Linked DNA regions of Homo sapiens: region 2 is linked to region 1. The links come from fine-mapping of genetic effects on gene expression. Tissue or cell type: lymphoblastoid cells. Region 1 holds a variant in brackets; the other region holds the start of a gene. All regions are shown on one strand. Distances are from middle to middle.

What was found. PIP is the estimated chance that this variant, and not a neighbour inherited with it, causes the effect.
Region 2: it holds the start of CD44, and the variant in region 1 is fine-mapped to the expression of CD44 in lymphoblastoid cells (TwinsUK, PIP 0.95).

The regions. Positions count from the first base shown.
Region 1 is chr11:35,025,448-35,033,711 of GRCh38, forward strand. LOC105376626 (a long non-coding RNA gene) reads right to left here. Exons shown (of 4, transcript XR_001748180.2): 3 at 4,722-4,818. Among named protein-coding and RNA genes, the nearest start is that of MIR1343, 88 kb to the left of the region's middle. RefSeq lists enhancers at 4,566-5,765, 4,728-4,847. The variant G/C (reference allele first, on the strand shown) is at 4,812.
Region 2 is chr11:35,136,109-35,144,108 of GRCh38, forward strand. CD44 (CD44 molecule (IN blood group)) reads left to right here and starts at 3,063. Exons shown (of 18, transcript NM_000610.4): 1 at 3,063-3,262. The coding sequence starts at 3,196. CD44-DT (CD44 divergent transcript) reads right to left here and starts at 1,924. Exons shown (of 3, transcript NR_120528.1): 1 at 1,590-1,924; 2 at 238-518. RefSeq lists enhancers at 2,228-2,792, 3,960-4,460 and a silencer at 2,703-2,772.

The sequences.
Region 1 (8,264 bases):
CAATAACAGGTTCTGAAATTAAGGCAATAATTAATAGCCTACCAACCAAAAAACGTCCAGGACCAGACAGATTCACAGCTGAATTCTACCAGAGGTACAAAGAGGAGCTGGTACCATTCCTTCTGAAACTATTCCAATCAATTGAAAAAGAGGGAATCCTCCTTTACTCATTTTGTGAGGCCAGCATCATTCTGATACCAAAGCCTGGTAGAGGCACAACAAGAAAAGAATTTTAGGCCAATATCCCTGATGAACATCAATGCGAAAATCCTCAATAAAATACTGGCAAACCGAATCCAGCAGCACATCAAAAAGCTTATTCACCACAATCAAGTTGGCTTCATCCCTGGGATGCAAGGCTGGCTCGACATAACGCAAATCAATAAATATAATCCATCACATAAATAGAACCAATGACAAAAACCACATGATTATCTCAATAGATGCAGAAAAGGCCTTCGACAAAATTCAACAGCCTTTCATGCTGAAAACTCTCAATAAACTAGGTATCGAAGGAACGTATCTCGACATAATAAGAGCTATTTATGACAAACCCACAGCCAATATCATACTGAATGGGCAAAAACTGGAAGCATTCCCTTTGAAAACTGGCACAAGACAATGATGCCCTCTCTCACCACTCCTATTCAACATAGTATTGGAAGTTCTGGCCAGGGAAATCAGGCAAGAGAAAGCAATAAAGCGTATTCAAATAGGAAGAGAGGAAGTCAGATTGTCTCTGTTTGCAGATGACATGATTGTATACTTAGGAAACCCCATCGTCTCAGCCCAAAATCTCCTTAAGCTGAGAAGCAACTTCAGCAAAGTCTCAAGATACAAAATCAATGTGCAAAAATCACAAGCATTCCTATATACCAATAACAGACAAACAGAGAACAAAATCATGAGTGAACTCCCATTCAAAATTGCTACTAAGAGAATAAAATACCTAGGAATACAACTTACAAGGGATGTGAAGGACCTCTTCAAGGAGAACTACAAACCAATGCTCAAGGAAATAAGAGAGGACACAAACAAACTAGGCCCCCCAAAACCCACCACCACTTATTAGACAGAATTAAGTGGGTTTGGGCCAGAACAGGGGAAGGTCTGAGCAAATAAAAATCTCAGAGATGGCGTGTATCATTCCATCTTCAACCTGCAAACACCCACGGGGCCTGAGGCACAGACCTCCATGGGCTCATGTGCATCGTCACATCAAACACCGTTAATGGGCCAGAGTGTGGCCTGTCCTGCAGGACACCACAGCAGGACATACTCTGTGCTTGTCTTAAGGATCCCATCACCCTAAAGAAGGAAGTCAGACAGACAAAGGATTAACAGGAAACAGCTGCAAATATACCATTAAAGAAAGATATGAAAGGGAAAATGCTTTGACATTAGAAAGGTTTTGTTTGTTTGTTCTTGCATTCCATACTCATGGATAGAAAAATCAGTATCATGAAAATGGCATTACTGCCCAAAGTAATTTATAGATTCAATGCTATCCCCATCAAGCTACCACTGACTTTCTTCACAGAATTGGAAAAAACTACTTTAAACTTCATATGGAACAAAAAAAGAGCCTGCATAGCCAAGACAATCCTGGGCAAGAAGAACAAAGCTGGAGGCATCACGCTATCTGACTTCAAACATTACTACAAGGCTACAATAATCAAAACAGCATGGTACTGGTGCCAAAACAGCATGGTACTGGTGCCAAAACAGCTATATAGACCAATGGAACAGAACGGAGACCTCAGAAATAACACCACACATCTACGACCATCTGATCTTTGACAAACCTAAGACACGCAAGCAATGGGGAAAAGATTCCCTATTTAATAAATGGTGTTGGGAAAACTGGCTAGCCATATGCAGAAAACTGAAACTGGACCCCTTCCTTACACCTTATACAAAAATCAATTCAAGATGGATCAAAGACTTAAACATAAGACCTAGGACCATAAAAATCCTGGAAGAAAACCTGGGCAATATCATTCAGGACATAGGCATGGGCAAAGACTTTATGTCTAAAACACTGAAAGCAATGGCAACAAAAGCCAAAATTGATAAATGATTAAACTAAAGAGCTTCTGCACAGCAAAAGAAACTATCATCAGAGTGAACAGGCAACCTACAGAGTGGGAGAAAATTTTTGCAATCTATCCATCTGACAAAGGTCTAATATCCAGAATCTACAAAGAACTAAAAACAAAGTTACAAGAAAAACGCAAACAACCCCATCAAAAAATGGGCAAAGGATATGAACAGACACTTCTCAAAAGAAGACATTTATGCAGCCAACAGGCATATGAAAAAATGCTCATCCTCAATAGTCATTAGAGAAATGCAAATCAAAACCACAATGACATACAATCTCACACCAGTTAGAATGGCGATCATTAAAAAGTCAGGCAACAGCAGATGCTGGAGAGGTTGTGGAAAAATAGGAATGCTTTTACACTGTTGGTGGGAGTGTAAATTAGTTCAGCCATTGTGGAAGACAGAGTGGCGATACCTCATGGATCTAGAACTAGAAATACCATTTGACCCAGCACTTCCATTACTGGGCATATACCCAAAGGGTTATAAATCATGCTACTGTAAAGACACATGCACACGTACGTTCATTGTGGCACTATTCACAATAGCAAAGACTTGGAACCAACCTAAATGTCCATCAATAATAGACTGGATTAAGAAAATGTGGCACATATGCACCATGGAATACTATGCAGCCATAAAAAAGGGTGAGTTCATGTCCTTTGCAAGGACATGGATGCAGCTGGAAACCATCATTCTCAGCAAATTATCACAAGATCAGAAAACCAAACACTGCGTGTTCTCACTCATAAGTGGGAGTTGAACAATGAGAACACATGGACACAGGGAGGGGGACATCACATACAGGGGCCTGTGGGGCGTGGGGGGGTAGGGGAGGTTTAACATTAGGAGAAATACCTAACGTAGGTGATGGGTTGATGAGTGCAGCAAACCACCATGGCACGTGTATACCTATGTAACAAAACTGCACGTTCTGCACATGTAACCCAGAACTTAAAGTATAATAACAATAAAAAAAACTTTGTCCCCCAGTCACTAATGCCTATAACCATGTGCAAAGTTATGTGCCCACAGGCGACAATATCCGCTTTTGCTTACTGCCATATAGTATGTTTGAGTTCTCTTTATTTTGCCGTTGGAGATTTCCTTTATGTCTCTTGAACTTGGCCATGTATTTCAGCCAGCATTTCTTTAGGTTTATAAAGGGAGGGACCCCATTTCTGTTACCTTAGTCTGGCATGTTATGAGGAGTTCATTTTTTAATGATATAGAAACCTTGTATATCAGTCAATCTGTTGCTGTGTTAAAAAAAAATATATAGTAGCTTAAACAATCATTACTCACAAATGAGGGGATGGTGCTGATTCTTAGGGTCTGACCCAGTTGATCTTGGCTGGGCTCAGTCATGTGTTTGTGCTCAGCTGATAGGTCAACCTGGTGCTGCCTGATCTGAGATGGCCTCACTCACATGTATGGCTATTAGCTATTTATTGAGTGGGTTTAAAGTCTCTGGTAATGAGGTTATATGTTTCTCATCAACCAGAAGCTAGCCCAGACTCATCCATGTGGCATTGGCAAGATTCTGAGAGTAAGATTGGAAGTGCACAGCCCCTTGATGCCAAGACTCAGAACTGTCACAGCGTCAATTTTGTGCCATTATAGTGGCCTAAGCAGGTCACAAACCAGCCCAGATTCAAAGAATGGGGAAGAGTTGCACAGTAGCATTAAAAAGAGCTCTGTACTGAGAAGGGAACAATGTGGACATTTTGGCAAACAAGGTATCTCACATTGGAAAACAAAATTTTTAGACATATAATCATTCAAAACTATTTAACAGTCTTTATTCTAGCCAATCAATCATGAATGCAGAGTTTTCCATTCATTTTGAAAGCCAATAGCTTTAAAATATATACATTAATTTAGAAGGATGCAGAAATGAGCCAACAAAATTAATTCAAAAAAATTAGTACCAGGACTATTGGGTAAATATAAAGGATTAAAGATTACTTTTTAAAAAAATCTAACGTTTTGTATTGCATTAAGTTTTCCATGTACTTTCATATATTTCATTATTTCTGAATCATACAATATATATAGTTCTTTCCACTTTATGGATAAACCTCTGAGTCTCAGAAGCTTGCCCTAAATCATTCAGTAAGTGGCAAAACCATCACTTGGATCCTGGTCTTCTGACTATAATCCCATGCACTGTCTACTTTATCCTGCAGCCTGCAGGTCAGAAAGGGTTGGTCTAAATGAAATTGTGTCTATTTTTATGCAATGAATAAATTCTTGAAATTTTTCTTGAAAATCATAATTATAATTTAAATGCTATGATAGAAGTTTTCAAAAAGTAAATAATCATAAATGGCCAGTGACTCTCAGCTGTCACTGAATGCTGTGGATAAAAAAAAAAATCCTTGAAAAAAAAATGAGCTCTTAGGTTTGCACATGAATTCAGAGGTAGCTTGGGAGTTTGAGGTTTTCTAACTATAGGTCCCCCAAACCCTCTTTCTGGTGATAATGACAGCTTCTTGGGAAAAGTCAAGATGCCTCTGTTTTGGGTGTGGTTCCCGAATTTGCTTCTGCAAGCAGCGTGACTCATTTGTTGAGCTCACTTTATGCAAAGTGGTTGTGGGAAGTGAGCTACTTACCAGGAGAAAAATGTAGTATTTTGGGGGTTTCTAATGGCTTTCCCGAGACGAGGTGTCTGCTGAGCTGGAACAGCATTAGCACTTTGAAGG[G/C]TGTGTTCTGTGTCAGACAGAAAACCTAGAGTTAGTACCATCTGATGACTTCTACCAGGAAGGAAGGAAACTGACATTTATTGATCATGAATTGTGCAGATCGTATGCCAGGTGCTTTGCATGTATTATTATTTTTTCATCCTCATAAAAAACCCATTTTATAAATAAGGGGACTAAGGTTTGGAAAATTTGACAGGATTTATCATAGTCACAAAGCCAGTAGGTAATGGAGATAGGATTTTAACCCCCTTACTCTTTCTGAATCCACCAGGCTGGGGAGGATGTGTGGTAAAGATCATAAATTTAAGTCAATATTGGGAAATTATGTGAAAGGCTTAAATTAGCAACTGCAGCACCTTAAGAAAAATTAAAGAGAAATTGTGTGTGGTAAAAGGAATTTTTTTTTTTCTAGTGAAATTTTGTATCAGTTTGCCTGGGCTTCCTGTGTGAGATGCTCTGTGTTCCTGGCGAGAGGCTGGGCCCAGCAGGCCTGTCCTTGTGCTCAGCGACTCTCCCACCTCTCCAGCCGATTCCTTCCATCCTTGTACGAGGCTGAATTCTGACGCCCAGGATGAGCTCCAGCGGACGTCAAGCTGATGTGTCATCTTATGAGTGAGGGCTTCTGAGCTAGTGCCCATGAGCTCTGACTCATCAGGCTTCTAATTATAACTCGTCCTGGCTTCTCAGATAATGGGTTTGTCTCAATAGTTTCCAGGGACACATTAGACCAGTCCTATATTTTGTGGGACTTGGGTGTTTAGGCAGCCCGTGGTGTTCTGGGCGGAAATAGAGAAGAGACTGACAAGTCATCAAGAATTTCAGTGGTGCCCCTGAAAGTTGTCACAGCATCTCAAATGTGCCTCTGAGCAAATGGTCTTTGGCAGAGCTTGGCAACCCTGCTTCAGGTTCCAACACTACAGCGTACAATCCCTAAAAGAGCTTTGGCATCCTGAGGATGTTAATGTCCCATAATGCCCAATGGCTGTGGTGGTAATGATGGGTAATAGACTTTAGACCCCACAAAACCAGCTCTCCAGGCACCCCACAGGGAACAGCAGTGGGCAAAATAGTGGGCAGAGCAGAGAAGGAAAGTAACATAGGATTCTACGTGGTTCCCACCTGTGGAAATGAACAGGACCCTTGCAAGTCCATTTGGGGCACCTCTAGTGACTCCTCGAAGACAAAGCAGATAAGGACAAGAGCTTCTGAAATAAAAACTGCATTGACCCAGAACTTTGGGACTGCAAGAGGACTGAGAGGCCCTAAATTTAACCACTACATTTCACAGACCAACTATAGCTCAGAAAGACTGTGATTTTCCAGTATTGCACAGCTAGTTAGAACCTATAGCTTTTCAACCCTCCATCTAGCATCTTTGATGCCCAACAAATAGTAAGTATTCCTCCAAAATTAAAAAATTTCCTTGTGTTCATGATTCAGTTGATTAAAATTGAGGTGGCTTTTTTTTTTTTTTTTGCCATTTTAAAGGACGTTGACAGAATCATTCAGTGGTATATCTCCAACTATAAGATCTTTTGAATTTGACACCACATCTAAAGTTCTTTTTCTTTCTTTTTAAAATTTTCTTTTAAAAGTTTACTTGACTCGATGGATTCAACATGTAAAGTTAGTTCTGTCTTTATGGTTTTCACACAGAAATTTGTATTGATGGTGCAAAGCTTAGGATTCTTCAAATGAGTTTGTTATGGAGGCTTGCTTTTCTGTCCTGCCTATTGCTACTACATTATCTCTGCATCTCAGATACAAATCAACACTGACTGAATCACAGAGCCAGCTCATGATAGGCATGTGATGACGAGTGAACCAGGAAAAGGGCAAGAGGGGCCTGGGGCTAAATCTTAGCCTGAGTCAAACTTGGGAAGAGACCAGGACATCAAGTGTGGAGGCCCAGAGTGAGAGTAGAATCAGTCTTTGGAGTAGAGCAGAGACAAGGTTTGAGGCAGAACAGAAAGCAAAGAAGGAGGGTCTAGGGAACTGCAAAGAGATTTCCATTCTAGTGCTCACACTCATCAACTTGTAGGAATTCACAGATCAATGGATTAGTGATTAAGCTTGGTAGGATTGTTGTGTAAATGGCCAGTGGTGTCTGCTCTGGATGAGGAAAGGAGAGTAAATGTATGAGTGCTGCATATTTGCAGTCTACAGCAGTATAGCCAAATGCTTACAAGTGCAAACTGCAGATGGTCTTATCGCTGCCCCTTATAGCTGGTGACATTGGACAAGTCACTTGACTCTTCATTGTCTCATTTTCCCAGCTTGAAAAATGGGTAAAAACTCATAAAGGTTTTCTGAACATTAAATAGAATTATATAGGAACGTTGCCTAGAACAATGCCTGGGACACAGTCGTCACTCAACATATGTTAACTATTATGACAGTGCTATCCCTGGTCTTGGACACTTGCTATGAAAAGCTTTGGAGTATCTGCGATATGTAAGGATGAGGATCAGATTTAAAAGGGCATAGCAAACTTGGGGTTAGTTGGACAACTTCTCTTTTTCTGATAATGTCTATAAAGGTGTTTTGAACCAAGAGTACTTAAAACAAAACTTTAACATGTGTTTTGAGCCTGACTGCTGGAGGGGATGCTTGAAAAACAATGTGGATTACCTAAAAGCAGCCTCCACCTTAATCCATGTTGGCCGCTAAGTGTGGGGTTTTGTTGAAACCACTCATACCACTTAATTAGCTTGCTCAATCGTTGTTTTTAGTCTGAAAATTTTTGAAAATCCTCCCCCTGCACTAAAATTAGGGAATGGAGGAGTGGGAATAAGAGAAGCTCTAACCACGCAGGCTTGACCTTGTATAGTGGAACAGACTTTGCCTTGCACCAATGGGGATTGAAGATGGCATGACCTCTTCTCTGAACTCCATCTCATTGCCCTAATGAGGACCTGGCAGCGCCTGGGTCCGCCACTTGACTTCCAAGTCTCATGATTAGAGGCTCTTTATTTGCTCACACCTCACATACTTCAGGTTCAGGAAGTGGAGGAGGTGCCAGATCTCATTCCGCGTCCCTCCTGCCCCTTCAGAATGTATACTTCCTTGCTACCGGTACCCTCTTTCCTTTCTGCCCTCAATCCTCAGTCTGCTGGTCACACCTCATTCTCTGAGGACTTAAACATCTGTCTTCCTCTCAAGGCCAAATTCCATTGTCAAAGAGAATGAGAGGAGAATTATTTCTTCTCTACCTTCTGAACAATTGGACATTGCAAGAGAAAACCAAAGAATGAAGTTCATTGGTTTCACATAGCATTCATGATCATCAGTCTCAAAAGATGTCTAACAATCCTACCATTTTTCTCTAGAAATCTAGCCTTTCCAGTTTCAAGGTGACTATTTGTACCCAAAACACATCCTGCTTTCTTCCACTTACCTCTGGGGGCACTTTTCCCCAAACCTCACTAAGAAAATAAAAGTGGCCAGACATGT
Region 2 (8,000 bases), 110 kb after region 1:
TGGGGAGGGAGAGGCACAGCTTACTCCTCAGCTTTTACTCTGACCACTAGGTCTGCTTCTGAGGGGTCTCTAAGGAACCTCCAGGTTCCATGAAACACAGTAAGACAGACATTGTTCCTAGTGACTCCCCACGTCACTTCACTTTCTTGCTCCAAGAAAAGGAAGCTGAAATCCCTGGAGGTTGCATGAGGTGAAAAAAGCTGCTCCTTGTCCTGTATTCTTGTGCATGGAACCTACCAGGGCTGGTTTCCTCACATGAGTAGGGACTGAAGCCTTATCTGGGAGCCAGTTTGCCCCCAGTTGTTTCAAGAAATAAAGTGTCCTCTTGGTCACAGACAGCAGCAGTAACAACTTTTTCCTGCGGACTGGCAGCATTTTCCAAGCACCTGCTCTTCAGGTGGGAGTTACGGGTCACTGTCTTCATTCCAGACGGGCGGCTCTTTGAGTCATGGCATGCCAGCTTCTGAGTGGCTGAGGACTAGATCCAGACAAGGATTTTTCAGTCCCAAACACTCTTCCTGAAAATGCAAGAGGAGTAGTCTTTAGTCAAACAGAATCTCCACAACTGAAAAATTTATACCGGACTAGACAGTGGTAGTGGTTGCACAATATTGTTAAAGTACTACACGTCACTGCTATAAACACTTTTAAATGGGTGAAATGGTAAATTTTATGTTATGCATATTTTAACATAACAATGATAATAATTTTAACTAAGTACGTTGCCTCCTTATTTCCTACAGGGTCAAGTTCAAACTCCCTGGCATAGCTTACACCTTGTAGTCCCCATACCTGTAACCTCATGTCTGCTATCTTCCCCCAGCCCCTTCATCTGATCTATGTTCAGATCAGCTCACATTGCTCTCTATTCTCTGGACAAGCCATGTTCTTTCACTTTTCTATGCTCAAACACAATTTTGCTTTTAGTAATGATAGCAAACACTTATTTAAAGTGCTTACTGCATGCATATGTAGACATAAATCTACGGCTTAATACATGCAGGGCTTTTGAGTCATTTAATCCTCACCAATTCTATGAAGTAATAGAATTGTAATAGTAATAATAGATACTATTATTAAGCCCATTTTATACTTGAGCAAATTGAGCTAATTGCCTTAGGCAAGGTCACACAACTAAGAAGCAGCCATAATAGGGTTTGGATCTAGGTGTTCTAGCTCCTGAATCCATGCTGTTCGTCACTACACTGTACTGCCTGTGGATGACTTACTTGTCCCTGTAGTTTCATCTGAAGAATTCCTCCTCCTTTTCCTTTGAGGCCTGCCTCAAATATCACTTCCCCTGTGAAGACTGCCTGGTGTTCTCCAGGAGAGAGTGTGACTCCCTTCTCTAGGAATGGTAGCACCCCAAACACACACATTTTGCAGCATATTTCACCTTGCATGGTAATGGCCTGCTTGTGAGTTTTATTCCGTACCAGAGGGTGAGGGCTCTGAAGATAGCGCCAGGTCTTATTTACCTCGATACCCCACAACACTCATTACATGTCTGATGAATGAATGCATAGGGGGATGGCTGGGTGCATTTCTCTCAACTTTTCAATTTCTTGAAATAAATAACAAAATCTTACCTTCCCTCAGAAGTCCTGGCATGGTTCCTTTCATCTTGCCACAGCCACTGATAATCACTTTCATTTTCTGTGTAACTCACCAGGCAAGAAGTCCATGCAGATTTACTTTTAGTAGTTCACATGACAAATAAATACTGCGTTTGATTTCCAAACATTAAACCATAGTATATTATAGATAGATATAGAGTTATCATTCAAAGTATGATATTTCAATCTCAAAAGGCTTCCCCTGAAGAATATTACAAACTCTTCCTCTCTTTAAGATCTGCTGGGTAGGAAAGATGGGAGAAAATGAATTAATGTTTACACAGAAAGGAGGATAATGGGGGCAAAAATAATAGATGAACGTATGGGTGGATGAGAGAATGGATAAAATGATAGGTGGATATGTTGATCTTGGACAGATGGGAAATGAGTGGATATATCAATAAACAGATATGTGGGTGGATGGGTGGAGAAGAGGATGGTGGATGGTTGTGGTTTTATGAAGAGATGTGAAAAAGGAAGTGTGGAATGATGGATGAGAAGTTGTATGGGAAGATGAATAGAAGAATAGGTGGTTGAATAAATTAAAAGGTGTGTGGTTGGATGAATGAATGAGTGGGATGATAGATGGACCTAAGTGGTTAGTGGATGGACAGGAGGATGGATGGATGTGAGAGCCCCAGAAGGACATAAGGAAAGATGGGTGGATAGATGGATGGGCGGATGGAAGGATATTTAGGAGGATGAATGAGCATGTGTGTGGAGAGAGGTGCCCATTCACACTGGCTTGAACACATGGGTTAGCTGAGCCAAATGCCAGCCCTATGACAGGCCATCAGTAGCTTTCCCTGAGCTGTTCTGCCAAGAAGCTAAAATTCATTCAAGCCATGTGGACTTGTTATTGAGGGGAAAAAGAATGAGCTCTCCCTCTTTCCACTTGGAAGATTCACCAACTCCCCACCCCTCACTCCCCACTGTGGGCACGGAGGCACTGCGCCACCCAGGGCAAGACCTCGCCCTCTCTCCAGCTCCTCTCCCAGGATATCCAACATCCTGTGAAACCCAGAGATCTTGCTCCAGCCGGATTCAGAGAAATTTAGCGGGAAAGGAGAGGCCAAAGGCTGAACCCAATGGTGCAAGGTTTTACGGTTCGGTCATCCTCTGTCCTGACGCCGCGGGGCCAGCGGGAGAAGAAAGCCAGTGCGTCTCTGGGCGCAGGGGCCAGTGGGGCTCGGAGGCACAGGCACCCCGCGACACTCCAGGTTCCCCGACCCACGTCCCTGGCAGCCCCGATTATTTACAGCCTCAGCAGAGCACGGGGCGGGGGCAGAGGGGCCCGCCCGGGAGGGCTGCTACTTCTTAAAACCTCTGCGGGCTGCTTAGTCACAGCCCCCCTTGCTTGGGTGTGTCCTTCGCTCGCTCCCTCCCTCCGTCTTAGGTCACTGTTTTCAACCTCGAATAAAAACTGCAGCCAACTTCCGAGGCAGCCTCATTGCCCAGCGGACCCCAGCCTCTGCCAGGTTCGGTCCGCCATCCTCGTCCCGTCCTCCGCCGGCCCCTGCCCCGCGCCCAGGGATCCTCCAGCTCCTTTCGCCCGCGCCCTCCGTTCGCTCCGGACACCATGGACAAGTTTTGGTGGCACGCAGCCTGGGGACTCTGCCTCGTGCCGCTGAGCCTGGCGCAGATCGGTGAGTGCCCGCCGCAGCCTGGGCAGCAAGATGGGTGCGGGGTGCTCAGCGCGGACCCGGCGGCAGCCCCTCCGGCTGAGTCGGCCCTGGGGGACTGGAGTCAAGTGAGCTGTCTGCGAAGTGCATTGGGCTCCGGAAAGCAGGGCTGGGATTTGCGCTAAACCGTTGGAGAATGTGTCTGTGGAAGCACCATTTGGTTGAAAGAAAAAGAGAAAGAGAAGAAAGTTTGTTGGGCAGGCTGCCGGCGCGCAGTTTTGGGCGAGGTCGCTAGAGCTGCAGCACATGGCAGAAAGTAACCGTTCTCCCGGATGCGCACAGTCGTTGTCTGGACTAACAGGCTCCTGTGCCCAAGGGCTCGCCAAGCCCCACCGGGCTGTGTCTAGGCAGGGCAGAGCTGGGCGGGGCAGAGACTGGGGCTGGAACAGGGCGAGTGGCTGTTATCAAGGTGGTCACAGAAGGGATCACAATTCCAAGTGTGAGACTAGCTGGCAATGGGTTTTCCAGAAAGGGGTCCTGGGTTCTCCCAGCTCCCCACTGAGCCTTGTTCCAAAGCTTACAGTCCGCAGTGTCACTGCCACCTTAGCGCTGTGGAAGCTTGAACCAGCTCTGCGGTGAGGTCTTGGGTCTCCATGAGATTCCAGCCTGGGATAGGGAGCATGAATATGAGAGGCAACCACTGGACCAGCTGCTTGGTCCTCACCACCTCCTGCTTCTGCCAATCAGTGTGGGGAAATCTCAACAGTAAGGTGGCTTATATTCCCTGCCTGGCAGCCTCAGAGCAGAGAGAAGAGCCTTGATACCAGGGCAACATCAGGGACCCTGGAGCTAGGGCTCCAATATCTCATCCAAACAGGGTCAGTGCTTTGTGGTGGCTATGGAGGGGAGGGGCTGCGTGTAAGGTATATTCTAGCACGGCTCAACTCCAAGCATTCTCTTTCTTTGTCTATGTATGTACAGATAATTACATGGCCGATTTGCTTATCGCTGGCCAAAATTAATCTTTCTTTTAAGAAGTGCCAGCTGGGTCATTAAGACAGCTCAGCCTGCATGCAGTAAATTCTACTCAGCAAATATTTATTAACCCAGTTCCACGGGAGTACTGAGAAATTGAAACACACAGTCTCACCCAGGTAGTTTAGATTGAGTACCCAGTATAAAGTATCTTGAATTACTTTCTGCTTTCTCTATCTTCCTACTTTCTGCAGTAGGAAGAAAGTGACCCTAGGTGGAGGCTAGGCAGGATGAGTTCTCTGTGCATATGCATCTCCCTTTCTGTGTGAGTGAGAGGTCTTTGCTAGGTGGGGATTTGGGGATCTAGGATTTATACTACTGAAGCTGAAATAATAATAATAATGATAGCAACAACACAGCCTGTCATGGTGGCCCATGCCTGTAATCCTAGGACTTTGGGAGGCTGAGGCAGCAAATTACCCAAGGTCAGGAGTTTGAGACCAGCCTTGGCCAACATGGTGAAACCCCATCTTTACAAAAAATACAAAAATTAGCAGGGTGTGGTGGTGCACACCTGTAGTCCCAGCTGCTTGGGACGCTGAGGCAGGAGAATTGCTTGAACCTAGGAGGTGAAGGTTGCAGTGAACCAAGATTATGCCATTGCACTCCAGCCTGGGTGACAAAGCGTGACTCTGTTAAAAAAAAAAAAATGAATACAGTGCTAGCTACCATTTACTGTATATTTTCACTGTGCCAGGCATTATGTTAAATATTTTCCATGTGTTATCTCATTCTACCCTCACAATGGCCTAGTAAGAAGCTTCCTGTTATCAGGCCTGTTTGACAGGAGGAAAACTGATGCTTAGAGACGTTAAGTGACTTGCTGGCATTCACATAGCCAGGAGCAGTGCTGGATGGAAACCCAGCTCCACTGAGCTCCAAAGCCTAGGCTTAGAATATGTTAGACTGTATAAGATGGACGAACTTGGAAGGATTTCAGGGAGGGAAGGATTTTGGTGGACTCTAGGCCTTAGGGAAAGTTCCAAAAGGGACTGGAGCTCAAATAAGCCCTTGAAAAGTGGAAACATTCAGGATGGGAGAGAAGAGTCAAGCTGGAGATCAGGGAGAGCCCTGGGCCTGGCCTGAAAGAAGAGGGCCCTGGTGGTTTCCCTATAGTCTCTAGGGAAGTTTATTTGTATGTTACCTACCAGTGCCATCTTCTGCTTTGTCTTTGGGCATTCTGACTCCTGACTCCTTCCAACCTGTCTCCCCGTTCCTTCTAAAAGGCCCCACTTCCAAATATTTGGCACTGTCCTAACCCTTGAGGTTCTCCCAGAGACCCGCAGTCTCCCTCCTGCCCCGTGTTTCCACGGCCCCTTTGCGCAGCATCATTTAGAGGAAGTACAATGAAGTGCCAGTAGCAATAACTGCCCCGGCCCTCGCTTTCATGTGCTTGTAAAGTTGTTTGGCAGGAACTGGGACTTGGAAAGGAGACATGACTTTGTCAGAGGGCTTGGGGCTGGGCATGGTGTGGGTGGCGAAGGGGAGAAGGAGGAAAGGGGAAGGAAAGGAGCTCTTGTTGCCCCATTCTGGGGAGTGGTGGACTCTGGACAACCACGAGGAAACTTTGGAAAGGAGCAAGGCTTTGAGGAGGAGTCCAGTCTTTGTATGGGAAAGCAAAAAGTGGAGAAATGGCCAAATGTAGTTAAGTGACATTGGACCCAGAAACTCTGAGTTGGGGAACAGATATCTTGAATTCGGGGTCTTGTGCAGGAGGAAGAAAGTGGCCCTTGGTGGAGGCCAGGGGGGATGAGTCCTTCATGCACATGCATCTCCTTGTCTCTGTGGGTGAGGGGATCTTTTTTTTTAATTATTATTATACTTTAAGTTTTAGGGTTCAACCATTGTGGAAGTCAGTGTGGCGATTCCTCAGGGATCTAGAACTAGAAATACCATTTGACCCAGCCATCCCATTACTGGGTATATACCCAAAGGACTACAAATCATGCTGCTATAAAGACACATGCACATGTATGTTTATTGTGGCATTATTCACAATAGCAAAGACTTGGAACCAACCCAAATGTCCAACAATGATAGACTGGGTGAGGGGATCTTTGCTTGGGAATTGCATGCCTGGTGTTGAGAAAGAGGAGAGCGTCTGAGAGCCCTGGGTCTTAGGGCTGGCACACACCTTTCTGCTCCCTTCTCTCTAATTGAGCATTAGAGACTCCGCCCCCTGCTGGGAGTTAGAACTTTAGCTGTGTTTTCCCATGTGAAGGAGCAAAGAGGCAAAGCTTCATCTCTGTTGGGGCTAGCATCAACTAATTCAGGTATTCCCCATTTACACATTGGACATCTACTTGCTGCAAAGGCATGGTGACAAGTCCTTGTGTGGGAGGCTGGCAGCCAGTAGGAAAATGTTCCATTTGTTTTTTCCCAAATTTCCCCACAAAGGAGGGGATGCTGGACAGCATGAAATTCTTAGTTCATGACAGATTCCCTTCCATTCATTCAGGAACTATTTCCTGACTCATTGTCATAGACTCAGAGATGGGAACTCTAAGGATCATTTAGAAAATCTGAAAGAGAGGGACTAGTGACTTCCCCTCTCTGCGACTTGTTAAGATATTAGGGCAGGGCATTTCTCTCATGTATCTCTATCATGAGGACTGTGGGAGCCTCAACCCCACCCCCTGCAGTGGGTGGGGAGGGTGTGGTCTACTGGGGTAACAACATTTGTTTCACACCTTAAATACTACCTTACAGACTCATTACAGTTTTATATATTACTCTACAATATACCCAATTTGAGTTTAATACAATAATAATGATATATATTTTTGACCATATAGCAATGTTGGTGTTCGACAATGATTCTCTGTATTGTCCTGGGGCTTCTAGCACCTCCTGGAACATCGCTAGATGGTCAGGAGCACCAAAGTTTTAAAAACCTGATGCTCTGCTGTGGTACCATATGGTCCTGTGTAAAGCAGGGTCCTAAGTCCTGAGTCTCTAGGAAATACTGCTCAGTGAGCACTGACTCTATACTAGATGTGAAGCCGGGGGTAGCACAGGATATCTTATCTAAGCCTCCCAACAGCCCAATACACCTAGCACTCTCTTTAACTCCATTTTCTAGATAAAGAGATCGAGACTTGTGGAGATGGCATGACTTGCCCCAGGATCCAGTGGTGGAGTTGGGATTTCCGCATTATCTAACATCCTCCCATGTTAGACTCCAATGCTTATGCTCCTTCAATTCATTACGTGTCTGGAGGACTTTGGAAGCTATACGTGGCTCTCCCACACTACCTGTCCCCTGTGGCCAGCATAAGTGAACTCTTGCATGGGTGGCTTCTCTCTCCATCCCCGGCAGGCTGTGGACTCTTGGCTGCCCTGCCCTGGCCTGTCTCTCCCCAGGTTTGGCCACAGATATCAGAGATGCCAACCAAGTTATTTGTAACTAAAATAAATCACATCCCTTATCAGAGTCCAGCTGCCCTCCCAGATATGCTCTGATTTACAGGCTTGGAATAAAGAGAGAGGTGGTTGCTTGTCTACAGGACAAGTTAGGGCAATGCCCTCTGCCTGAATATTAGGAAAGCAGCATTACAGGAGCTCTCACTCTGACCAGGCAAGCATTTCACATGCACAGACCCAGAGACCCACTCCTCACATGCTCATTAGTAGGTTGTGCGACCCTGGGTAGGAGGCTGACATGGGTCTTGAACTGAAACCCAGTGTGTGGCTCTAGGTGACATGTGGCCACCCAAGTGAGGTTTCG